Linked DNA regions of Homo sapiens. The protein of the gene in region 4 purifies or fractionates together with the protein of the main gene of each other region. This does not show direct contact. Each region holds a gene or a part of one and is shown on either strand. Other genes may lie near its edges.

The links.
Region 1: the proteins of TUBGCP3 (region 4) and UQCRH purify together in Homo sapiens (affinity purification with mass spectrometry; one large-scale study listed by BioGRID and IntAct). This does not show direct contact.
Region 2: the proteins of TUBGCP3 (region 4) and OMA1 purify together in Homo sapiens (affinity purification with mass spectrometry; one large-scale study listed by BioGRID and IntAct). This does not show direct contact.
Region 3: the proteins of TUBGCP3 (region 4) and CCP110 purify together in Homo sapiens (co-immunoprecipitation; one large-scale study listed by IntAct). This does not show direct contact.
Region 5: the proteins of TUBGCP3 (region 4) and CAPNS1 purify together in Homo sapiens (affinity purification with mass spectrometry, with the first as the bait; one large-scale study listed by BioGRID). This does not show direct contact.
Region 6: the proteins of TUBGCP3 (region 4) and MTMR1 purify together in Homo sapiens (affinity purification with mass spectrometry, with the first as the bait; one large-scale study listed by BioGRID). This does not show direct contact.
Region 7: the proteins of TUBGCP3 (region 4) and ANXA13 purify together in Homo sapiens (affinity purification with mass spectrometry; 2 studies listed by BioGRID and IntAct, with this or other methods). This does not show direct contact.

What each region holds. Positions count from the first base shown.
Region 1 is NC_000001.11:46,306,698-46,310,197, forward strand, and holds part of UQCRH (cytochrome b-c1 complex subunit 6, mitochondrial isoform 1 precursor), read left to right. Parts: intron 1-2,403; coding exon 2,404-2,430; intron 2,431-3,199; exon of another isoform or gene 3,200-3,284; coding exon of another isoform or gene 3,285-3,347; intron 3,348-3,457; coding exon 3,458-3,500. UniProt on the Homo sapiens protein: Component of the ubiquinol-cytochrome c oxidoreductase, a multisubunit transmembrane complex that is part of the mitochondrial electron transport chain which drives oxidative phosphorylation.
Region 2 is NC_000001.11:58,536,727-58,540,226, forward strand, and holds part of OMA1 (metalloendopeptidase OMA1, mitochondrial precursor), read right to left. Parts: intron 2,585-3,500; 5' UTR 2,569-2,584; coding exon 2,069-2,568; intron 16-2,068; coding exon 1-15. UniProt on the Homo sapiens protein: Metalloprotease that is part of the quality control system in the inner membrane of mitochondria. Activated in response to various mitochondrial stress, leading to the proteolytic cleavage of target proteins, such as OPA1, UQCC3 and DELE1.
Region 3 is NC_000016.10:19,526,942-19,530,441, reverse strand, and holds part of CCP110 (centriolar coiled-coil protein of 110 kDa), read right to left. Parts: intron 2,576-3,500; 5' UTR 2,561-2,575; coding exon 2,420-2,560; intron 1-2,419.
Region 4 is NC_000013.11:112,550,154-112,553,653, forward strand, and holds part of TUBGCP3 (gamma-tubulin complex component 3), read right to left. Parts: intron 1-3,500. UniProt on the Homo sapiens protein: Component of the gamma-tubulin ring complex (gTuRC) which mediates microtubule nucleation.
Region 5 is NC_000019.10:36,143,066-36,146,565, reverse strand, and holds part of CAPNS1 (calpain small subunit 1), read right to left. Parts: coding exon 3,438-3,500; intron 761-3,437; coding exon 692-760; intron 591-691; coding exon 512-590; intron 371-511; coding exon 254-370; intron 1-253. UniProt on the Homo sapiens protein: Regulatory subunit of the calcium-regulated non-lysosomal thiol-protease which catalyzes limited proteolysis of substrates involved in cytoskeletal remodeling and signal transduction. Essential for embryonic development.
Region 6 is NC_000023.11:150,734,896-150,738,395, reverse strand, and holds part of MTMR1 (phosphatidylinositol-3-phosphate phosphatase MTMR1), read right to left. Parts: intron 2,933-3,500; coding exon of another isoform or gene 2,897-2,932; exon of another isoform or gene 2,695-2,896; intron 1,802-2,694; coding exon 1,616-1,801; intron 1,155-1,615; coding exon 948-1,154; intron 1-947. UniProt on the Homo sapiens protein: Lipid phosphatase that specifically dephosphorylates the D-3 position of phosphatidylinositol 3-phosphate, generating phosphatidylinositol. Could also dephosphorylate phosphatidylinositol 3,5-bisphosphate to produce phosphatidylinositol 5-phosphate.
Region 7 is NC_000008.11:123,702,894-123,706,393, reverse strand, and holds part of ANXA13 (annexin A13), read left to right. Parts: intron 1-3,500.

The DNA.
Region 1 (3,500 bases), on a different chromosome or scaffold from region 4:
ATTAAGAAACCTTGTTAATGAAAAACTAGAATTTACATCCTAAATAGCATCTTCATATTTAGAAGAAACCTTTGCCAATTGTGAGAATAAATAGCCTGGATTCCAAATTGAACCTTTCCTACCCCTCACTCCCAGCTTGTATGAGCTTTGGTGGCTTCACTGAATGGCATGGTAGAGGATGAAACATGTATTAGGACTTTTTTTGGAGACGGGGTCTCACTCTTGTCACCCAGACTGGGGTGCAGTGGTACAGTCATAGCTCACTGCAGCCTCAAACCCCTGGGCTCAAGGGATCCTCCCACCTCGGCCTTCTGAGTAGCCATGACCACAGACGTGCGCCACCATGCCCGGCTAATTTATTTATTTTTGAGACGGAGTCTCTCTGTCGCCCAGGCTGGAGTGCAGGGGTAGGATCTTGGCTCCTGCAACCTCTGCCTCCTGGTTTCAGGTGATTCTCCTGCCTCAGCCTCCTGAGTAGCTGGGATTTCAGGCGCGTGCCACCATGCCCAGGTAATTTTTGTATTTTTAGTAGAGACGGGGTTTCACCATGGTGGCCGGGCTGATTGAGAACTCCTGACCTCAGGTGATCTGGCCACCTCAGCCTCCCAAAGTGCTGGGATTACAGGTGTGAACCACTATGCCCAGCCTGTTTTTAATTTTTTTAGAGATGGGGTCTTGTCATGTTGCCCAGGCTGGTCTCAAGCAGTCCTCTCACCTGGCCCTGTATTGGAGTTCTGAAAACATGATTCCTGAGCTAGTTCTTTTTATTTCCCTAGATACCTTTTCTTTCCTTGCCCCCAAATGTGGGTATCTGCATGCACAGGCAGGCAAACACCTTATTTCTGAGGTCAGATTTTACTATATCCCAAATTTAGGCCTAAACTGTTGCTCCCATGGGCAGTTTTTTACACTACTATCCTTGAAGAAGAAGGAAACTAAGTTTGAGGTTGTGCATTTGAATCAGAAGTGAATAGGTGGGGTCTGTTCTGTATTTCCAAGCTCATGAGTGGAGTTGTGCACTTTTATTTGATATACTTAGTCTACTAGGGGTTCTGGGAGTTCAGCAAGCCAAAAAGCAGTGACTAACCATCCTTAGTTAAGCTCTGACCAAACAAGGGTTTTTAGGTTTAGCAGTTTTCATATTCCTAATTCAAGTTCACAGTCTAGAAAAAAATGGGTTTTCCTCCTAACTTGGTTTGGGATGTAAGGACTAAATTTTGCTATTTGTAGCAATACTGGGACAAATACTTTAGATTATGTAGGCCCCATGTGAACATCTGGCAGCTTGAATCTGTATCAGAAAATGTCTAATTACTGTTTATTATCTCTAAACTGGGATTACCTCCTTAAGGGACTGTTGTGATTAATTAAATCATAAGAGATATGAAGGTGCTTTATAAACTGGAGAGTATTAAGCACACTTAGGTTCTTGTTAATGAAAGTGAGATGGTGTCTCTGTCTTGAAATATACCTGGGATTCGTTTTAACCAAGTATGGTAAGGTGACAGACCTGGAGACAACCGCCTTTGAAAGAAGAGTTTATTATTACTTAAATTTCCTGAAAGAGAGGGATATGCCACACAAAAAAATGCAGAGCTATATGGGGAAGTGTCTGAGCTCGTCAGGAGGCAGAAGGTATGAGGGGAAGGAAGCATGGCTCAGCACCTTGGTTTCTATGGGAAGGAATTGGTGGGCAGCGTAGGTACACTTGCTCAAATTTAGGATTGGATAGTTTGAATAATTTCGTTGGGCTCTAGCTTATAGGGCTGGTTCCTAGTTGTCCTATATTTGTCCCTGGGGTGATTTAGAGAAGGGGAAACAGGAGCTTAGTGTACAAAACTTAGATAAAGGAGGCAGGGCCAGGCTGAGTGGCTAATGCCTATAATCCCACCACTTTGGGAGGCCAAGGTAGGAGGATTGATTGAGCCCAGGAGTTTGAGAGCAGCCTGGGCAACATAATGAGACCTTGTCTCTACCACAAAGAAAATTTTTAAATTAGCCAGGCATGTGGCGTGTGCTTATAGTCCTAGCTACTCAGAAGGCTGAGGCAGGAGGATCACTTGAGCCCAGGAGTTTGTGGCTGCAGTGAGCTATGACAGAGCAAGACTCTGTCTCTTAAACAAAAGATAAAGGAGGCAGTTTGCTACAAGCACTTTGGATAGTTACGTTGCATATGAAAGGTATGCTCGCAGGCAAGTTTGCTGTCTAAAAATTAGCCCTGGAAGAGCAGGATTAGCTCCAGGATTAGCAAGGCCTCTAAAATGTAAAAACATCATAAAACACAGAAAACAAAATAACATCGTTAATAGTGTCAGTGTCTATCGTCAGTAATTACATCAGTATGATCAGGAATAAATATGTCATAAAATTGCTGCTGACATTAATTTTGTTTTCCTTTTGTAGGAGGAAGAGGAAGAGGAGGAATTAGTGGTAAGAACTGTCTCAGGTTTGGAAACATCTCAGTAAAAGCAGGGTTTGAGCTTCATGAAATTCTAAGGGCATTTTAAGGAGTTTTTACTTGATACCTTGTAGATAATGGGGGTGGAATAAGCTTTGATACTTCCTGTGCAGTGGAGAGTTTAGGGTGTGAGCCTTGGAAGCTGAGTCTGTTCTGGGTTTGGGGCTTCTTCAGTTGTGGTACCAGGGAGCAGATGGCATCTTGAGGGCCTGGCACTCAATCATCTGCTATTTGTGGTTTAATAAAGAACTTTGGGCTAGGCATGGTGGCTCGTGCCTGTAATCTCAGCACTTTGGGAGGCCAAGGCAGGCGGATTACCAGCCTGAACAACGTAGAGAAACCCCATCTCTACTAAAAATACAAAATTAGCCGGGCGTGGTGGCACATGCCTGTAATCCCAGCTACTCGAGAGGCTGAGGCAGGAGAATTGCTCGAACCCGAGAGGCGGAGGTTGTGGTGAGCTGAGATTGCGCCATTGCGCTCCAGCCTGGGCAACAAGAGCAAAACTCCGTCTTAAAAAAAAAAAAAAAAAGAACTCTGAAGGAACCTTTGTTAGATAGTCCTTCTCTATGTTAGCATTGCCTTTCTAGTTGGGCAGCTGGGGTGCATAGGCCTGGTTCTCAGACAAGGGGATTTGAAGTTTCAGACGTGTCATATTCCAAAATGCTGTGTTAACAAGTAAGGCCTCCTATAGATCTACTTCAAGTTTGGCCAGGTTTCCTTTACCACCTTGTTTTTCAGATAGGACTGAGGCTTTCAGTGCATACTGGCAACCTTGGAAGGCAGGAATGTGAAACTTTTCCCTACTACTTAGCATCAGAATTGAATGGGAGACCGCATTCTGCCATTTCTGGCGGCAGTGTGGCTCTGCCAGCTGGCCTTCTGCACGGTAATTCAGAGGCAGCACCTTGGTTTGGTGGTTGTGTTAATCAAAGCATATGTGTTTGGTGGGTCTCTGCTAAAAATGCCCATTTTGTTTTTTTTCTGTTTCTACATCAGGATCCCCTAACAACAGTGAGAGAGCAATGCGAGCAGTTGGAGA
Region 2 (3,500 bases), on a different chromosome or scaffold from region 4:
CATTTCCTTATGCCCCTAAAGCAAAAAGAAAAATTCAAAGTTCTGAAAATCATTCCAGCACATATCACTAAAGCTCAAATGCATACACTAGAATTTTACGTCCTCAAATACCTGAATTTGTATGATGTATTTCGCTGAATACATCGCTTTTCCAATTAATAAAATTCTTAGCTAAATGATGAAAAAATAATCAATGATGTAAAGTTACAGTTAAAAAATTCTAATACTCATCGAAATTTTCTTCTTCAGCTATTTTAAGGATAAACACTAAATGAGATGCTAGTTTACTATAACTACCACTGGTTAATATTTATTACTATCTAGTACATGCAAAATTCTCTCTCTCTCTCTCTCTCTCTGTATATATATATATACCATCTCATTTAATCTTCATAATAACCCTGTTACAGAAGATAAAATTGTTAGGTAACTTGTCCATGGCCACTGAGGTAATAAAAGGAAAACCAAGCAATGAAGGCAATGACATTCCAGAGTCTGACCACTTAGCCACTTAATAGGGATAAATGCCTAAATAATTATGTAAGAGGTTACAGTACAATAAATCTATACCTGGAACCACTACTTTTCCCACTGCTCCTCAGACCTCCAACACAATTTGCCAGTGATTCCACAAGGTACAAGGGAAACTGCCTCAGCATTCATTTTGGAAATAAATAGTGCTCAGTAGCAGAAACTCCACTATCCTCTTTACAACGTGAAAAAGGAGAGATAACAAGATCCTAGGTATTCATAAGAAAGTGGGAGATTTTATAGATAACATCTGAGAAGGTCCAATTTCTACCAGGCAACAATACTCTCTGCCACTTAGCAGTGTTCAGAAACATTTTGACAACAAGCAATGTTTTCAATACTGGGACAAAAATTTTCCTTATGAGTTGATCTGTAAAATCACAACAAAAATTTACCATATATACATCATTCTCTTGACAAAAATTTATTTTACAAATTCTTAAAGTTCTCTTTGTGAAGTGACACACCCCAATGCCTTTACACAAAGTGTGTCCATTTAAAGGGACATAAATCAAACTATCGAGTATACTTATTTCCTATTTAAAACTTTACATGACATTATCCTTTATTTAAAATGTATGAAAGACATATTCTAAATGAAAAATTTTAGGTGATCAACAATAGTAACAAAAACAAGAAAGTTACAAATAAATAATTTAAAAGGATGAGGACATAGCAGAAATCAGAAAGAGCATCCGAAGAACCTGGGATGAGCGTATTACTTCAACCAATAGTCAATACAGCTGTATCGCTTTTGGGTGCCAACACCAAATCATGAAAAACACAATAAGTTACAAATAGAAGTTCTTGGTTTTTGATCAAAAGCAAACTGGTTTGGTTCATGTGGTAGTAAGAAGGCTAGAAGGGACTTCACAGTCATCAAACACAAGAAAGCTTTATGAAGAAACAGTGATTAGCTTTCTTCCATCTTCATAAAACAAACAAGAGAAAAAGGGTTAAAGCACTACAAGCTGTGAAAATATTATTATAAAGGATCACCAAGGAAAAAAACAAAGATTTGTTGGGAACAGAATAGAAAGAAAAGAAGCATTAATGACTTAAGAGTTAACTAGGAGTGAGCCCACCCTTATATAAGCAAAGTTCCTCAATTTTATGATTTGCTGCCTTAAATTCCACAAATTAAAAAGAAATGTTTGTAAGTACTCTTCTTATACATAAGTGATAACCAGCACTTCTGATCCATATATCCTAAGATTTTGTAGTCATAAATATAAGATTTTTTTAATGCCTATACAAAATGTAAGAATAACTTTTTAAAGAGATATTTCTATACCATAAATTAGTATGCAGGAAATTGTTTCAAGATTATTAAATCATACAGAACAAAATTGGGCAGGACCTACTGTTTAGAAACTTCACTTTGAGCTAAATGGGGGGAGACAGGGGATCTGGCAAGGTTTCTTTAAAAGTACAGTTTTATAAATAAAAAAATTAATTTCTAAAAGTTAATACGTTAGCACAAAATATTAATGCAAAAAGTTAATATAAAAGTTTTTATTCTAAAAAAGCATTTTACCTGCCTACAATGATTGCAAATAACTTCTGTACTGGTTTAAGAATCATCAACAAGAGAGGAACCGGAGCAGCTTGAAACCGTGGAGAAGTATGGAAATTCCTAATAGCTCTTATGGAAGCAGGGCTTAGAGGATGCAATACTGACAGACTAGGGACTGCTGTAACTTCTTTTATTAGCAGCTGTCTTGAAAAAGCATCATTCCATACAGTACATTTGCTGGTAATCCTCCAAATTTCCTTACTTTTGGTACTTGAGAGGCCTCCTGTTCTTTTGTTGTTAAAAGTACTATAAAAATGAAAGTTTCCAGGCAGAAAACTCCACCTGTCACACTGATTTACTCCCAGTCCCTGATACTTATTTACTATATGGTTAACTTGTACTTGATGACAGCCCCGTGAGGTGGATGCTAATGTGTTACATTTTCTCCAGTTAGACAGTGAATTAAATCGGAAGAAAACATGGTTTCTAGCAGCAGACTGCAATCCACAGATGAAGCTCATTTTTTCACTTGACTACCTGAAACAAAAAAAAAACTATAAATATCTGTGGAAAATATTTACTTACCAAACTGGGACTATAACACTTATTAAATAGGCGTGTCAGTTGTTCTTCTAACACATCTCAGGCTAAATTACCTTGGGTTTCAACTCATCACCCCTAGAGCAACGCCTTTCAGCAAGATAAACCAGAGTATATATACCACGATATTTACTATGCAACGTTTACTTTAGAAGCTTGAATTTTTTTCATTTCATTTTTAATTTTTAGTTAGGGAAGAGCCATTTGTATTTTAATGGCAAATGATTTGAGCAATAAAGTGGATTAGATAAAAACAACAGTAAAACTTTATCAGTTTGCAATAACTGGAAGGAAGCATGTGATACAGAATAGTAAAATCTAACTTATAAAATGCACTGGACATTACGCAATGAAGAACAGTGATCCCTAACAGATGGGAAACAGAGCCCTACAACTGTCCTAGCTTATTGCCTGGAGAGTGCTTCCAGGCCACAATGCAGACAGGGTAAACCTAGGTGGAGCCCAGTGGTTCCCCTAAATCGAAGAGATAAAGCTGGGAGGTCAAGTAAACCAAGGTTGCTAGAGCTCACAGGACAGAGGACAAGAGAAGACAAGAGCTGCACAGAGAAATAACTCTAGAGTTCTGCAGAGAATCCCCCTCCCATATTCAGCTGAGTCCTGTCTGGGCATATGTGTAAGAAAATTCCCTGGAGCTGGGAAAGGGCCACCTGAAAAGATTGCAGGGAATAATATACAGGGCTCACACAGGGCATGGTATACTGCCTATCCCCTCCCCACCATTCAAAGTGGAAAACCTTATCATTCGTGGGTAGAGTACTCAGAAGGGTTTTGCCTCAACATTAGAGAAAGATTAGTCTGAGACCGAAAGCTGCTCTGGCCCCACCTAACAAAT
Region 3 (3,500 bases), on a different chromosome or scaffold from region 4:
CCTCCCAAAGTGCTGGGATTACAGGCATGAGCCACCCCGCCCAGCCCTATCTTCAAAGAATTCCAAAAATCTTTAACCTGTTTATCAAACTTCACTTCCAGTTCATAGGAACTACAGGGACTAGAGAAACAAGTTAAATAACACTATTAGGAAACAATGGGACAAATCCAAGATCTAAGGAATTCTACAAGACAATAGCTCTGGTCTCTTTAAAAATTCAGTATCATAGTTTTGTTATTTTTTTAAAGACAGTATCTCACTCTGTCACCCAGGTTGGAGTGCAGTGGCATGATCAGGGTTCACCGCAGCCTCAGCCTCCCGGGCTCAGGTGATCCTCCCACCTCAGCCTCTAGAGCAGCTGAGACTCCTGGTGCGCGCCACCACACCCAGCTCTTTTTTGTATTTTTTGTAGGGATGAGATTTCACCACGTTGCCCTGACTGGTCTCAAACTCTGGGGATCAAGCAATGCAATCCACCCACCTCAGCCTCCCAAAGTGCTGGGATTATAGGCGTGAGGCACCATGCTCAACCAATAAAAAAAACTGTTTTTAAGACGTACAGTAGCTATTTTAGATTAAAATAAAGAAACATAACAAGCAAATACTAATTGTGAACTTTGGATCCAGATTGGGGGAATAAAGTTATAAAAGGCATTTTGAGCACAAATGGAAAAATTTAAATATGAACAGAATTATTAGATATTATTAAAAATTATTAGTTTTCTTAAGATGTGATAATGGTATTGGGGCTTTACATAGGAGAATGTCCTTATTTTTAAGAGATGTACACCAAAATATTTAGGGGAGCAGTGTCAGGTCTCCGTGGTTTTCAAATAGCTAGGCAATTTTTAAAAATGTCATATGTACACACACACATAGATGTATATAAAAATCACAAACACAATAAAGCAAAGATGACAACAATGTTAAAAATTATTTAATCTAATGGTAAATCTATGGGTGGTCACTGCACTATCCTTTCAACTTTGCTGTATGTTTGAAAGTTTCATTACAAAAAGTTGGCAGTTAGCTCTGGTGTCTTTAAAAATTCAATTCAATTAATTAAAATTAATCTCTTAACTCCTGTTATACCAAAAAATAAATTTAAAGCTCACTTTTTTCTAATATTAGTTTGTGATTTAAAATAAAGTCATATGCATTTTTAAAATATCCAATTAGTATCAAAGGGTGTATGATGAAGTGTCTTCCCTATTATCCTATATTCTCTCACCACTCCCCAGAAAAGGAATAGCCATCCTTTGAAAAACCCAAATGGTTAACTTATATTGGGTACCTCTTATGATCCAGGTGGTATTCTAACCATTTTATATCTACGAATTCATTTAATCTTCAAAATAGCCTTATGAGGTAGGCACTATTTTATCCCCATTTAACAAATAAGAAAATGGACCACAAGTTTACACAGCAAGTAAGTAGCAAAGCAATGATTTGGACCCAGGCCAGAAGGCTCCACAGCCTAGACTTTTTTTTTCCTTCTTTTGGGATAGGGTCTTGCTCTGTTAGCCCAGGCTGGAGTTTTTTTCCTTCTTTTGGGATAGGGTCTTTCTCTGTAGTCCAGGCAATGATGCAATCCTGACTCACTGCAGCCTGCAACTCCTAGGTTCAAGCGATCCTTCCGCCTTAGCCTTTGAAGAGCTGGGACTACAGGCACATGTCACTGCGCCAGGCTAATTTTTTAACATGTTTTTATAGAGATGAGGTCTCACTATGTTGACCAGGCTAGTCTTGAATTCCTGGTCTCAAGCAATCCTCTTCCTTCCGGTCTCTCAAAGCATTGGGACTATAGGTGTGAGCCACTGTGCCTGGCCCAGAGTCTGGACCTCTAATCATGACTCTATACTGCCCCTGACAGCATGCTGCACACGGTGTTTTACACTAGATCATTGAGATCCTTCCATGCCTCAACATTTACATCTGCCTTACTGTAATGGTATGTATGAGAGTTTATAAAATAGACCATAGTTAAACTACTCCACTACTGATGGACATTTAGGTGGTTCGTCAACCTTTGCTATTTTAAACAATGCTAATGTAACTTTGTACTTATTTCTTTGGGCTCACATATAATTGTAGGATATACCCAAAAATGGAACTGCTGACCCAAAGGCTATGTATGCTTTTAAATTCTACCAAACTGCTCATCTAGAAATAAAATAAACTGATTCTCTTAGCAAAAGTGCATTAAAAGTGCATTTTCTCCACAATCTAAGGAACACAAAGTTCTATTAGGTCTTGGCCAATCTATAATAGTAAGTAAAAAATGCTAATTCATTTGTATTTCTCTAATTCTGAATGAGGGCATCTCTTCAAATGTTTATAAGCCTTTCTTTTGTTTTTCCACGAACTGTTTTAGTTGTTCACTACAGAAAAAAACTATTTAAAAACAAAGCAAGTTTACCAGTGGAGAAAGGATAGCCACTCCATGAAAGCGAATAAGTGAGATACTTTCAGACTGAGCAGGGAGAAAGCTCTCTGTGGATAGTGATGCTTCTTGTATTCTGGCAAGACTTTTTTCACAGAACTTCTCATACTCCTCCATCTTCCCACAGTCACACTACAAGAGAGAAAAATGTTATTTTTAATGTACTGGGAAAAACAGATCTTAATTATTTGGCAGATTTTGTAGAGCATGAGAGAGTCCCTATAATTCACAATTCCTATAACTGGTCCTCCCAGAATTGTCTTACTGATCAGGAGCTAATTCTTGGGTATGGTAATTCACCTCAAGAACCTGTCCAATTAAGATTTACTTTATATATTAAATATTTCTGAATATTATTGCATGTAAATCAATCTTTAAATGGGATTAATTTAGCTAAGAATTCAGTAAAACCTTCTTAAAGGAAACAAAGTTCTGTAAATCTTTACTAACTTCACATTGTAAAACAGGATATTATATTTTCTTTAACAGGACTTATCTACACAAGAAAAACTATATCATACAAAGGTACAAACACTGTAGTAAAAAAGCCTACTTAAATCAAAGAATATTTACTTTTAAAAATTTTCTATTTTGAAGTTCAGAGGTTACTCTCATATCTTTTTTTTTTTTTTTAAAGAGACAAGGTCTCACTATGTTGCCCAAACTGGATTCCAGTGACTATTCACAGGTTCAGTCACAGTGCACTATAGTCTCAAACTCTGAGACTCAAGCAATCCTCCTGCCTCAATTTGCCTATCTTAACACTATACTTGGACTGCATGAGCACCAGCCAACTCAGTCAGAGGTAAAAAAGAGCAAATCGATTGGCTCTGATATTAATTATATTTTATTGTTGAAAATTGGAACCATCACCAAACTACTTAAAACAATCCCAGTAATTTCACAGTTTCTGGGAAATTGTGATTATGAAAATACAAGGTAACCAGGAGGGATTAGGCATCATATTCATTCATTTAGCAAACAGTAAATGTTGATTGCTTATTTGCACAGCATTATGTGTGGCACTGTTTCCTTTAAATAAGCAAGGGAAAATAAA
Region 4 (3,500 bases):
TGCTGTTCAAGGAGCCCACAGCAGAAGCAGCCTGCAAGGGATAAACCTGTGTTCTTTCTCATTCAGTTTTATCCAGCAAAACTCCATCAAAAAATTTTTTTTAATTGTTTTTTAAACTTGTTTTCTTTAAGTAAATATGTAGGTTGCATACCTTTCTGTATATTTTTAAAATATATCAGCAGTCACCTATAGGTGTATTTTACTGCATTTATGGTTTGTGGACTAAGACAAATGTGAACATTTTCAAGTATGAAAATGAACATAAAACATACTAATTTTGTAGACACAAAAGGACACGTCAAAAGTGAGGTGTGCAAGAAGAAACGTCCTAGAGTCTGGAATGAGACAGACCAGGGGGTAAAAATCCAGGGCTCCCGCTGGAGGTACCGCCACGTGTCAGCCCCTGACGGTATGAACCTCTAGGCTCATCTACAAAGGGAGGAAGAATAAATGCGGTAACGTAGGGCAAGCGCCTGGCACAGTGTGGGCACAAAGGTGCTTACTAAACCATAGGTCAGTTTTCTTAGGTAATATTTACAGAGAAAACGACATGGAATCTGCTCAGGCACAGCATCACTCTTTACCAAAACTCCATCCCAGCCCCAGGGCAGGAGAGCAGACACATAAACACATCAAAGCTTTGAAAAACCTGCTGAAATATGCGGCCAGGTGCGGTGGCTCACGCCTGTAATCTCATCACTTTGGGAGGCCAAGGCGGGCAGATCATGAGGTCAGGAGATTAAGACCATCCTGGCTAACACAGTGAAACCCCGTCTCTATTAAAAATACAAAAAAATTAGCCGGGCGTGGTGGTGGGTGCCTGTGGTTCCGGCTACTCGGGAGGCTGAGGAAGGAGAATGGCGTGAACATGGGAGGCGGAGCTTGCAGTGAGCCGAGATCGCGCCACTGCACTCCAGCCTGGGTGACAGAGCGAGACGACTCCGTCTCAAAAAAAAAACAAAAACAAAACCTGCTGAAATAATCAAATCATTATCCAACGTGTAGAATCTAAGTATTTATATACAGGTGTATGTGAGTCAGCTTCTGAGAAGTCTACAACCAAAAGAGTGGAAGTGCAGGCAGAGCGCGGCAGCGCCACACACACTCAGAGGGAAAAGGCCTGTGGTTAGCAGAGGCTGTTTCCACCTTGGTTCATTAAATGCACATGTAAGTTTCACACTTACAAAACAGTATCTTCATTCATATATGATTTTGCTCCATTTGGTATGTCTAGAGCCAGGACACCTCCAAGGCTAATTGTGGGCACTGGTAATACTGACACAGGACATAAATTATGCAAGGCATAAATTAGGGCACACGGTCACCCCACTGAGAGCACACGCTGGCTCTTCAAATAAGATAAATAAACCATCACTCCTTCAGCAACTGGATGGCACCAAGCAATGACTCCAAACAGCAGGAAATGGAAGAACAGAGACAGCTTTGGAACAGAGTGACACGTCACACCCTAGTCCATACCTGCCATCTACTAGTCAGGGCAACTTGGTCAAATCAATCAAACTTGCTGAGGTTCAATTCTCACATCTGCAAAATGGGGACAATTAATGCTTGCCCTGATCATTTTAGAAGGCTGCTATGATAATCGATAAGGAGAAAGAAGATAAAAGAAGAGCCTCTAAAGTCCAGTACTATAAACAGCAGTCCCCGACCTTTTTGGCACCAGGGACTGGTTTTGTGGAAGACATTTTTTCCACGGACCAGGGTGGGATGGGGGGGCAGAGTGGTTTTGGGATAAAACTGTTCCCACCTCAGATAATCAGACATTAGATTCTCATACGAAGCATGCAACCTAGATCCCTTGAATGCACGGTTCACAACAGGGATCACACTCCTATGAAACTAATGCCATCACTGATCTGACAGGAGGCAGAGCTCAGGCGGTCATGCCTGCTCGCCCTCCACTCACCTCCTGCCGTGCGGCCCAGTTCCTAACAGGCCATGAACCAGTACCGGTCCACAGTCCAGGAACTGGGGACCCCTGCTATAAAACATAATATGATACTACTATAGTGATGATCAATCCATCTCCTGGAATAAAATATCTACATAATGGTTTAGTTATCCTGTATTGATTTTGTGTGTGTGTTTTGCTTCATGTCTATCAAGTTGACTGGGACCTATCAGTGACACTTGCATAAGATGATGATATAAACCCAGACATGATAAAACACTCCCTTCGGGAAAAGGGACAGGGACTCTAAAATTACAGCTGGCTCCTGAGGGGACGGCCCACCAGTCCTACCTGCCTCGAGAAAGAGCCAGCTCACTCCTATCTGCCCTTGCAATGAGGGAGAGTGGTGGCTGGTCATCGAGCAATTCACTAGACTGGCAAACAGAACAGAAAACAGTACTAGACTGGGAAGCAGCATCTTTATACGCATTCTCTCCCCACCTTCACAATCCTAGAGGTAATCACTACCCCACTCTATGCAGGAAGAAACTTGTGGCCAACAGAAGATAACCTGGGCAAGATGACGTGACCATTACAGGAGAAGCCCAAACCAGAACCCTGGGCTGCCTCGCTTCAAAGCTCAAAGTGTGATGCCTACTCAGCAGCCACGCTGCCACAGCACACTCCTCCCCACCAGCCACGCTCCTCCCCACCAGCCACGCTCTTCCCCATCAGCCATGCTCCTACTCAGCAGCCACACTGCCACAGCACACTCCTCCCCACCAGCCACGCTCCTCCCCACCAGCCACGCTCTTCCCCATCAGCCATGCTCCTACTCAGCAGCCACGCTGCCACAGCACACTCCTCCCCACCAGCCATGCTCCTACTCACCAGCCACACTGCCACACTACTCGCCTACTCACCAGCCACACATTCTTACCCACCACCCACACTCCTCCTCACTAGCCACATTCCCAACCACCGGCCATGCTCCTACTCCCAGCCACGTTCTTACCCACCAGCCATGCTCCTCCCCACCAGCCACACTGCCACACCACATGCCTAATCACCAGCCATGTTCTTACCCACTAGCCACACTGCCACACCAAGTGCCTACTCACCAGCCACATTCTTACCCACCGGCCACGTTCCTGCCCACCAGCCACACTACAGCACCACACTCCTCCCCACCAGCCATGCTCTTCTCCATCAGTCACGCTCCTACTCACCAGCCACCCTCCTACCCACCAGCTACGCTGCCATAAGTCCTGTGCTACGCTGAGCTTATAGTACACAGTTGTTCTGTGATTCAATAATTTTTGGAGATTTCATTGGCAGTAATTACTGCCCAATAATCAACCTATGGACAAGACCACATGCTGCTTAGCCACAAAGAAGGGCTGGACAGTGGAGATGCCACGGCTCCTATTAGCTGCCCCCTGTCAGGCTCCAACAGGAGGAGAAGCAGCAGCAGCTCCCTCCCAACCATGCACTGTGCCATCGGCAGTGCCCACCCAGGGCTGTCCAGACAGCCATAGCCAGGATTCCCATCTCCAGCTTCGGCAGTGTTCCCAAATCCTGCCTCACC
Region 5 (3,500 bases), on a different chromosome or scaffold from region 4:
GCTGCCCCCATCACAACCCATCACTCTGCCCTGAGCTTCCCCTCTCCCAGCCATCACCAGTCTGAACTGTCACTGTCTGGGGACTTGTGTCTCCTCCACCAGACTGTGAGCTCCATGAGGGCAGAAACTGGAACTGATTCAATCACCACTGTGCCCCTAGCATCGCCCACCTCAAAGTCAGGCTTAGAGGAGACCTTGGTCCATAGAGGTCATAGGAATCCCCACCCAGGAAGACAGCTGGGTTGTCACTCACGGAACATGGCGTCCAGCCTGACCAAGCAGCTGATGAAGTTGTCAAAATCCATGTTCCCACTTTCATCTGAGTAGCGTCGGATGATCATGTTATAGAGATGCTCATTCAGGTGGAACCCTAAGATGGATGTAGTCCTTCAGGTGCGGGGGCCACATGGCCCAACCCACTCCCATGCCCAGGAGTCAGGCCCAGACCAGCTGAGTAGAGGTTTTCTCACCCATCCCACTCCCAGCCCCAGCATGTCCCTGCCAGCCATACCTGCTGCCTCAAAGGCACCTGGGAGTTCACTACTGCAAATGGTCCCTGATCGGTCAGTGTCGAACTGTTTGTATATGGCCTGTGAGGACAGAGACATTGGGTCCAAGTGAGCATTGTGGGGCATAGTGTCTCCATGGCTTGGGGGTCTGGGTGCCAGGGATTTCAGAGGTTTCTACACACCTGCCACCTTTTGATGTTGTTCCACAAGTACTTGAATTCCTCAAAGCCCAGCTTGCCTGTGGTGTCGCTCTGGTGGGAGGGTGTTAAGAAGAGTGACAGCTACACCCAGATGCATGCATCACATGCACTGTGGACACGATGGTGATACAGCAAGCAGGGCAGCCAGGGCTGAAACTCCAGCTCCCGCTTGGTCCTAGTCATATCACCTGGTGTGCGGTTTTATTTTTCATTTTATCCATACATATTGTCACTTACATTTCTAAATAGGGATTCTCTTTAAACATAACCATGAGGAATTATATTCAACTACTCTAAAGTACAAATTCCTTGCCTGAAGAGTTGTTAATTGCTCATTCAGAAAATTCTTAATAGGCCACGCACGGTGGCTCCCGCCTGCAATCCAGCACTTTGGGAGGCCGAAGCAGGCGGTTCACTTGAGGTCAGGAGTTCGAGACCAGCCTGGCCAACATGATGAAATCCCGTCTCTACTAAAAATACAAAAATTGGCCAGCTGTAGTAGCGCACACCTGTAATCCCAGCTATTCAGGAGGCTGAGGGAGGAGAACTGCTTGAACCTAGGAGGTGGAGTTAGCAGTGAGCCAAGATGGCACCACCGCACTTCAGCCTGGGAAACAGAGTGAGACTCTGTCTCAAAAAAAAAAAAAAAAAAAGAGAAAGAAAAGAAAATTCTTGACAGTAACTCAATTTCATAAAAATGTTAGGATATGTGAAAAACAAGTGTGTGACCAGGCATGGTGGTTCATGCCTGTAATCCCAGCACTTTGGGAAGCCAAGGCAGGTGGATCGCTTGAACTCAGGATCCACCTGATGTCCACTCAGGAACATCACTTTCTCACTAAATCCTTGGGACACCAGTTCTACCAGGACTATTTCCAGAGAAGAAAACATTCAAAGCTGAAAACTCTACCCAAGATCATAGTTAAGAGCTAATGTGTACAGACCACATACTATGCGCTATACACTGTGCTAAACCTTTTGGATGTAGTTCCGATTCGGTATCACCATTATCACTCACCCATTTTACAGAGAGAGAAACTGAGGCACAGAGCGGTTCAATAACCTGGTTAAGAGGTAGAGTTGGGATTGCTTTGCTCTATGCAATATGTCTGTGATTACATGACATGTATATTATGTATGTGTCTGTTTGCCCTATGTGTTAAATGTGCATGAGGCCAGGCGCAGTGTCTCAAGCTTGTAATCCCAACACTTTGGGAGGCCAAGGCGGAAGGATTGCTTAAGGTCTGGAGTTTGAGACTTGCCAGGTCAATATAGTGAAAGCTTTTCTCTATAAAATATTTTTTAAAACAAAAATAAATAAAAATATGCATGTATCCAAGATCAGCTAATGGCTGGCCCATGTACAGATAACACGTGTGTCCCTGTGCACACTGCCTCATACACCTTCACGTATGTGGGTGTGCTCTTAGGTGTGTGTGTGTGTATATGCGCATGTGGCTGTTATAAACGTGGGTTCTCAAGCCCAAAAGACCTGAGTCCACAGACTGGAGTGCAGTGACGAAACCTCTGCTCACTGCAACCTCCGCCTCCCGGGTTCAAGCAATTCTCCTGCTTGAGTAGCTGGGACTCCCGAGTAGCTGGGACTACAGGCGTGCACCACCACGCCCAGCTAATTTTTGTTATTGTTATTTTTCTTTTTTTTTCTTTTTTTTTTTTTTTGAGACGGAGTCTCTCTCTGTCGCCTAGGCTGGAGTGCAGTGGCGCGATCTCGGCTCACTGCAAAGCTCCGCCTCCCAGGTTCACGCCATTCTCCTGCCTCAGCCTCCCGAGTAGCTGGGACTACAGGCGCTCACCACTGCACCCGGCTAATTTTTTTGTATTTTTAGTAGAGACAGGGTTTCACCGTGTTAGCCAGGATGGTCTCGATCTCCTGACCTCGTGATCCGCCCGCCTCGGCCTCCCAAAGTGCTGGGATTACAGGCGTGAGCCACGGCGCCCGGCCTATTTTTATTTTTATTTTTATTTTATTTTTTGAGACAGAGTCTGGCTCTGTCGCCCAGGCTGGAGTGCAGTGGCGCGATCTCGGCTCACTGCAAGCTCCTCCTCTCGGGTTCACGCCATTCTCCTGCTTCAGCCTCCCGAATAGCTGGGACTACAGGCGCCCGCCACTACGCCCGGCTAATTTTTTTTTTTTTTTTGGTAGAGACAGGGTTTCACTGTGTTAGCCAGGATGGTCTCAATCTCCTGATCTCGTGATCCGCCCGCCTCGGCCTCCCAAAGTGCTGGGATTACAGGTGTGAGCCACCGTGCCTGGCCAATTTTTGTATTTTTAATAGAGATGGGGTTTCACCATGTTGGCCAGGCTGGTCTCAAACTCCTGACCTCAGGTGATCTGCCCACCTTAGCCTCCCAAAGTGTTGGGATTACAGGCATGAGCCACCATGCCTGACCTTTATCTATAACTTGAGACAAATGACTGCTTCTTTCAGGAAACTGAGCCTCAGTTTCCTCTTCTGTAAAATGGAATATAATAATTGTGCCTGTCCAACAGGGTGGTTATGACGGTTCGGTCACTTTATATAATTAAAGTGCCAGCTGTGACAGCTGGCATTGTTATGATTTACCGCCACATGTCTGCAGGTGACTGTGTTCTGATGAATGCATTTCCACATCTGTGGATATGAAAGCTACATGTTGGCTTCCCAAACATACTCTCAAAAAACTCTCTGTCCACCCAGGGCCTCTCCCACACTGCCCCCAAGGATACATCCATCACGGCCACCATGCTGCGACATGTGTCAATGCCAAAACCATCAGTCTTCAGATCAGG
Region 6 (3,500 bases), on a different chromosome or scaffold from region 4:
CAAGCATCCATCAGCAGATGAGCAGATAAACAACATGTGGTATATACACACAAGGGAATACTATTCAGCTATAAAAAATCATGAAAATTTGATATTTGTCACAACATGGATGAACCTTGAAAATATTATGCTTAGTGAAGTAACTCAGTCATGGGAGGACAAATACTGTAGGATTCCACTTATATGAAGTACCTAGAAAAGGCAAATGTATATGAAGACAGAAATATTAGTGGTTGTCAGGGGCTGGGGGAAGTGAGGAATGACTGTTTAATGTGTACAGCATTTCCTTTTGAGGTGAAGAGTACGGTTTTTGTTTTGTTTTGTTTTTTGAGACGGAGTTTTGCTCTGTTGCCCAGGCTGGAGTGCAGTGGCATGACCTCGGCTCACTGCAACCTCTGCCTCCCAGGTTCAAGCAATTATCCTGCCTCAGCCTACTCAGTAGCTGGGACTACAGGCGCCCGCTAACACATCTGGCTAATTTTTGTATTTTTAGTAGAGACGGGGTTTCACCATGTTGGCCAGGCTGGTCTCGAACTCCTGACCTCAGGTGATCTGCCTGTCTGGGCCTCCCAAAGAGCTGGGATTACAGGCCTGAGCCACCGCGCCTGGCCAGAGTATGTTTTCAAACTAGAGGTGATGGTTACATAATACTGTGAATTTACTAAAGGACACCGAATTGAGCATTTTAAATGGTTAATTCTATGTTATATGAATTTTACCTCAATTTTTTAAAAAGGCATAAATACACTAAAATAAAAACGCCCTATGAGGAACATACAATGCCTGAGGTCCATGTATTTTATTATGGCAATTCAGGTCTGATATGATACAGAAGAGAAAGCCTGCACGTGTGTGTGTATATATGCGCTTACGTGTGTCACACATGACGTTTACATCCATATGATACCGCAAAACAGTCCAGCATAAACCTCACTGTCTGAACTTACCAGTGCAAACCTGTGTCCAAAGCTTATCCACTCCTTTTCTACGAGAGTTTCAAATCCTTTAATGGTCCTGTAGTAACTGTCCAACATTAGCATAGCCAGAGATGTGAGCTGGGCTGTTCGGTCCCAACCGTCGCTGCAATGCACCACCACAGATGTTTTCCCAGATTCTATTTTATCAGCAATTCTTACTGCCCCAGCAAGCAGCATCTTCAGAAAAAAAAGGCACATTAGACCAGGCTACATTGAATTTCAATTAAATGTAAAACAATGTAAAATAATTCTGGGGAGAGCTTTGGAAGTTCTGGTCAATAAACCAAGCAAGAATGGCAGGCAATCAGCTGAGAATCACTAGGAAATATTAGCATCACATTAAAAAAATAAAAAGAAAAGAAAAAATCTTATACTGGAGAAAAACTACAGGAGTAAATATGGTTCCTTATTAAAGGGCCACGAAGTTCTTTAAAAGCCTGACCTAAGGCAAGCATTTTTCCCTTTTCACTATGTCACAAAAGCCCTCCACAAAGACCCCAGTCTGATGCTGTCCATGGAAACTATTGAATAAGAAAGTTCATGCACACAGCCAAGAGGCACTTGGAGATATACGTATTTATGGCACAGGCACAAAGAAGTCTTAACTGGAAAGCATATAAAGTGCTGGATCTCTTTACCCTTATATATTCCAGCCAATGCGTCCCATCCACATTGGAGAGCCACCGCGCCTCATCGATCGAAGGGTACACAATCTCTTTTAATTTGCGTAGTGACTCTCGCATGACATGAATGTTGTGGATCTCCAAGAACACAAGTTCTGCATTTGGGTAAGCACTTTCACTTTCATATCCTCCACCCTTTGTCTACGAAAAACAAAACAAATACATCACATTATCTGGAATTAACTTTTCTATTCTTTCTAGTGCTATGAGATACAGACCACTAAAGAAGCAACAAACTCATCTGCAAATAAACCTCCTATATCCTTGTATGAGTTTCCTAGGGCTGCTGGAAAAAGAACCACAAACTCAGTGGCTTAAAACAACAGAAGTTTATTCTCTCCTAGTTCTGGAGGCTGGAAGTCTGAATTCAAGGTATCGGCAGTGCCATGCTTCCTCCGAACACTCTAGGGGAGGATCCTTCCTTGGCTGCCCCAGGTTCCGATAGTCCCAGGTGTTCTTGGCTTATACACACATCATTCTGATCTCTGCCTCCATTTCCACCTGACCTTCTTTCCTTTGTCTGTGTCTGTCTCTTCTCCTCTTCTTCTAAGGACACAGTCATTTGGCTTAACCCCCACCCCCCAATTCAATATGACCACATCCTAACTTAATTACATTTACAAAGACCCTATTGTGAAATAAGGCCACATTTATAGGTACTTGGAGTTAGGACTGCAACATATCTCTGAGCTAACAGTGGGATGTGCTTAAGGAACTGAAAAGAACCTCACATAGCTGAGACATGGACCTGGAAGATGTGGCGAGACAGGAAGGAAAGGACCCGTGGGTGGAGGGCTTTGGAGACCCTGTTCAGGAACCTGGATATCACTGCCTTGCGGCTCTGAGGGATGTGCACAGAGTTGTCCACTGAGAAGATCACTCTGTACAACATGGTGACTACAGTCAATAACAATGTAGTCTGTATCTGAAAACTGCTGAGAGTAGATTTTAAGTGTTCTCACCACAAAAAATGGTGTGTTAATTAGCTTGATTTAGCCATTCCACAATGTGTACACAATCAAAATACCACGTTGTACACCATAAATATATACAATTCATTTATCAATTGAAATAGTAACAATAAGTTTTTTTTAAAAAAGAAGATCACTCTGGTCATAATGTGGAGATGAGATTGCAGGGTGTGAGGCAGAAGTCCAATTTCAAGGTTCCTGCTGTAGGTGAGGTAAGAGATGATGGGTCATCCAAAAACTAGAAGAGGAGGGCATACTTCCTAGTTCATTCCATGAGGCTAGCTGTATCCTGATACCAAAGCTAGACAAAGACATCACAAGAAGAGAAAACCACAGATTAACATCCCTTATGAAAATACATGCAAATATCCTCAACAAAATACTAGCAAACCCAATCCAAGAGTATATGAAGGGGACTGATCACATACCATGAACGGGTGGGATTTATCCCAGGAATGTAAGGAGGTTTTATTAGCTTCCTAAGGGTGCTATCACAAACTGGGGGACTTAAAACAACATAAAATTTATTCTCTCACAGTTCTGGAGGCTGAAAGTCCGAGATCAGGGTGCTGGCAGAGTTGGTTCCTTTAGGAGGGTATAGGGAAGAATCTGTTCCATGTCTCTCTCTTAGCTTCTGGTGGTTGCTGGAAGTCCTTGGCACTCCTCAGCTTCTAGCTGCATCATTTAAATCTCTGCCTCTATTGCCACATCGCCATCTTCCTTCTGTGTGTGCCTGTGTCTCTACATGGCTTTCTTATACGGACACTAGGCACTGGATTTAGGGCCAACCCTACTCCAAGATGGCTTCATCATAATTAATACATCTGCAAAGATCCTATTTCTAAATAAGGTCACATTCTGAGGTTCCA
Region 7 (3,500 bases), on a different chromosome or scaffold from region 4:
CCTGCCAGGATCCAGGCCTGAGAGGCCAAGGCCCTCGTCTGGGACAGGAGTGGCCTGAATGGAAAGAAAGAGGTAGGCTCAAGAGATATTTACAAGAAAAAGAAATCCCTTTTGAAGTGAGATTTCTGACACTCCGAAGTTTTTTTTTAAAAATCATAATAGTGTCATAGAATGAGTAATTGGATTCCCACGATGGAGGCGAAGCTCCGGGAGGAAATGAAGGAGGACAACGTGAATCCCAGTGTTGAAACCAAGCCAGCACCAGGCAGGCAACTCACTCCTGCTATTTTTGCAAGTGAGATCCTCCTAGAATTCTGTTTCTCCAATTGAAACCAAACAGCTAAATGTTCCCAGAGCTGTAGAGGTGAAAATACTCTTTGAGGTTAAGTGAACGGTTCAAGGACCCAAAGGTTTGGAACATGGTTGTCACATCAGACCCCTGCTCAGGCCTGTCTTTCCAAGTCGCCTCTCTGTCTTTCCAAAGCTGACTCTGAGGGCTGGTGCTGGAGCAGAAGGAGGGTTAAACAGCTCACATTTTTTTGCCAGGGCTCCCTTTTTTTTCTCTACCCCATCTCCAGCTAGTTTCCCTCCATTCATTTCCCATCCCCATGGCCTAGATTTTTCCTACTCTCAACCCTTCCATCAAAATGCATTGCACGATCTTGTTCCTTCAGGATCCTGATGGCTCAGCTGGGTGGCAGCCATCATCTAGGTCCACACACCAACCAGAGCAAGACAGCAGTAAGTGACACTGTAACAGCACACACTGCCATGTAGTGGCCACTCCCTAGAGCCCAGGTGTCGGGCTCAGAATGTCACTACTGCAGTCTTGGATAATCACTGCAGTGATCCTAGAAACATACATGTAAATAGTGTGCTGTGCCAAAACAGAGGAAGCAGAAACTTAACAAGTGTGGCTGAGATTAGGTGAGTAAGCCTTGGGCTGCTCTGTGCAGAGATGGATCTAGAAGAGTAGCATGACACCAAACTGCGGGAAGTCTCGATGCCACCATAAGGGATTCTGATGTAATTCTAGGAGTCAAGAGGAATCACTAAAGGTATTTAAAGTATGGTGTGAAGTGAACACATGCGAGCTTCCCAGGGTGGACTGCAGAGATCAGAGCCTGGTATCGGGGTGAAGGCTAAAAACACTTAGGACCTGTTAGGCAGTGACAGAAGGAATGAAGAAGAGGAACAGGTAAAAGAGTTGTCTCATAGGTGAGACAGGCAGGACTTGGTAGTATTTGAGAGTAAAAAAGACTGATGGGCCCTCAAAGGTGACTTTGGATTTTCTCTAATCCGTGTGATGCCATGCACTGAGACAAAGGAACAGGATGAGGAGTGGATTTAAGGATAGACAAAATGAGTTTGGTTTAAGCTACAATGGAAGTTGAAATGCCTTGGGAGATCCGTGGGAAGTTGACTACAGGCAGCTGGAAATAAGATCTGAACTCAGAGGAGAGATTAGGGCTAGAGGCGCTGATCCTGGAGTCATCAGTCAAAGGGCGAAAGTCGCCTGGGAAAGGAGTGACTCCAATAGAGAGGAGAACTGAAAATCGAGTTTAAAAGGCCAGTGGAAGAATACAGGCCAATCAAGAACCCTGAGAGGGAGGTGATGGAGAGGAGAAAGGAAAGACTGGGAAAGGAGGTACAAAGCCATCTAGGAAGGTGTTTCACGCAAAGAATTGTCAACCGCAGGCCGGGTGCGGTGGCTCATGCCTGTCATCCTAGCACTTTAAGAGGCTGAGGCAGGTGGATCACCTGAGGCCAGGAGTTTGAGACCAGCCTGACCAACATGGTGAAACCCCATCTCTACTAAAAATACAAAAATTAGTTGGGCATGGTGGTGGGTGCCTGTAATCCCAGCTACTCGGGAGGCTGAGGCAGGAGAATTGTTTGAACCCAGGAGGTGGAGGTTGCAGTGATCATGCCACTGCGCTCTAGCCTGGGTGACATAGCCAGACCCTGTCTCAAAAAAAAAAAATAATTCCCGACTGCAGAATTCAAATGCTGCAGAACAGTCAGGTACATGCAGGAACCGAGAAGAGGTGCTGCATTGTGCCTCAGCTTCCTCTTCTGTAAAGAAGAGCTTGGACTAGATAGTCTCTAACATTTCCTCCAGCTCCAGAGATTGCTGACTGCTGTGCCTTGATCCCACCGAGCTCGATCACTGGGGTGAGCAGTTCATGGAGGGTGGTCCCTGTGCACACCCTGCATGGATGTGAGGCAGTGCCAGGCGCGTGGTCATTTACATCCCCTGGTGTCCCGGGTTTCCCACGTGCGTGCTTAGGACCACCGCGGACTGGACCCACACTTGGATTCTCGCATTTCATTCTCACAATAGCCTTGTATACTATTACCCTCATCTTAGAGGTGGGAAAACTGAGACTTGGCAAGAAAAATCACTTGCCCAATGTCATGCAGTCGGTACAGGGTGGAGCTGTGATTTGAGTCCAACCTGAATAAATCTAATGTGGGGTTTGATGGTAAAACCGTCTTTCTTATTCGCACACTGGAAATACCTGTGTCATCTTTCCGATCCTGGTTCCTGGTTCAAACAAGGACATTCTCCCCTTCTTTCTTATTCACTATAGTTTTCAGTACTGATCAAATTGCTGCCATGAGCTTGTATTACTTTGAGCATCAGGGGTAAAAAAGCTTCTAAAAATAACATAATCTAAAGGTAATAGGAGTTAAAAGGGGCAACCTCCCTTCATGGTTTCAATCAAGACTTCTCTCCTGAGATTAACAAATGTATGGGTGGGGTTAATATTGTAACAGTTTCAGCCTATATCCTAATCTTGTTCATGCAATTGTAAGCACCCAGAGGCCAAGGAACAGGCCATCTTTTTCCTTTTTGTTTTTTAAAACATTTTAATTGAGATATAATTCATGCACCATATAATTCACCCATTTAAAGTGTTCAATTCAACAGTTTTTATTATACTCACAGATGCATGCAACCACCACCACAGTCAATTTTAGAACATTTTCATCACTTCAAAAAGCAGCCCTGGACTCCAGCTACCATCCCCCTAGGCAGCCCACCCACCCCCAGCCACTAGTATACTTCCAGCCTCTGTATATTCTCCTGTTCCGGACTTTCATACGAATGGAATTATATAACATGTGATCTGCTATGATTGACTTCTTTCACTTAGCATAATGTTCTCAAGGTTCATCCATGTTATAACATCTATCAGTAATTTATTCCTTTTTCTGGCCAAATAACATTCCATTGTATGGATACCCCATATTTTGTTTATTCATCTTCAGGTGATGAACACTGGGGCTGCTTCCACGTTTGAGCTATTATGAGTAATGCTGCTATGAACATTCACATGCAATTGTTGGGTGGACATATGTTTTCATTTCCCTAGGAATAAAATTAAGGAACCAGCCATACTCGTTCCTCTTTCCACCACAATGCCTAGCACTGTGTGCCATGTGCTGTGAGGCCTCAATGGCTATTTGTCTAAGTGAATGAAAAGAATACAGTT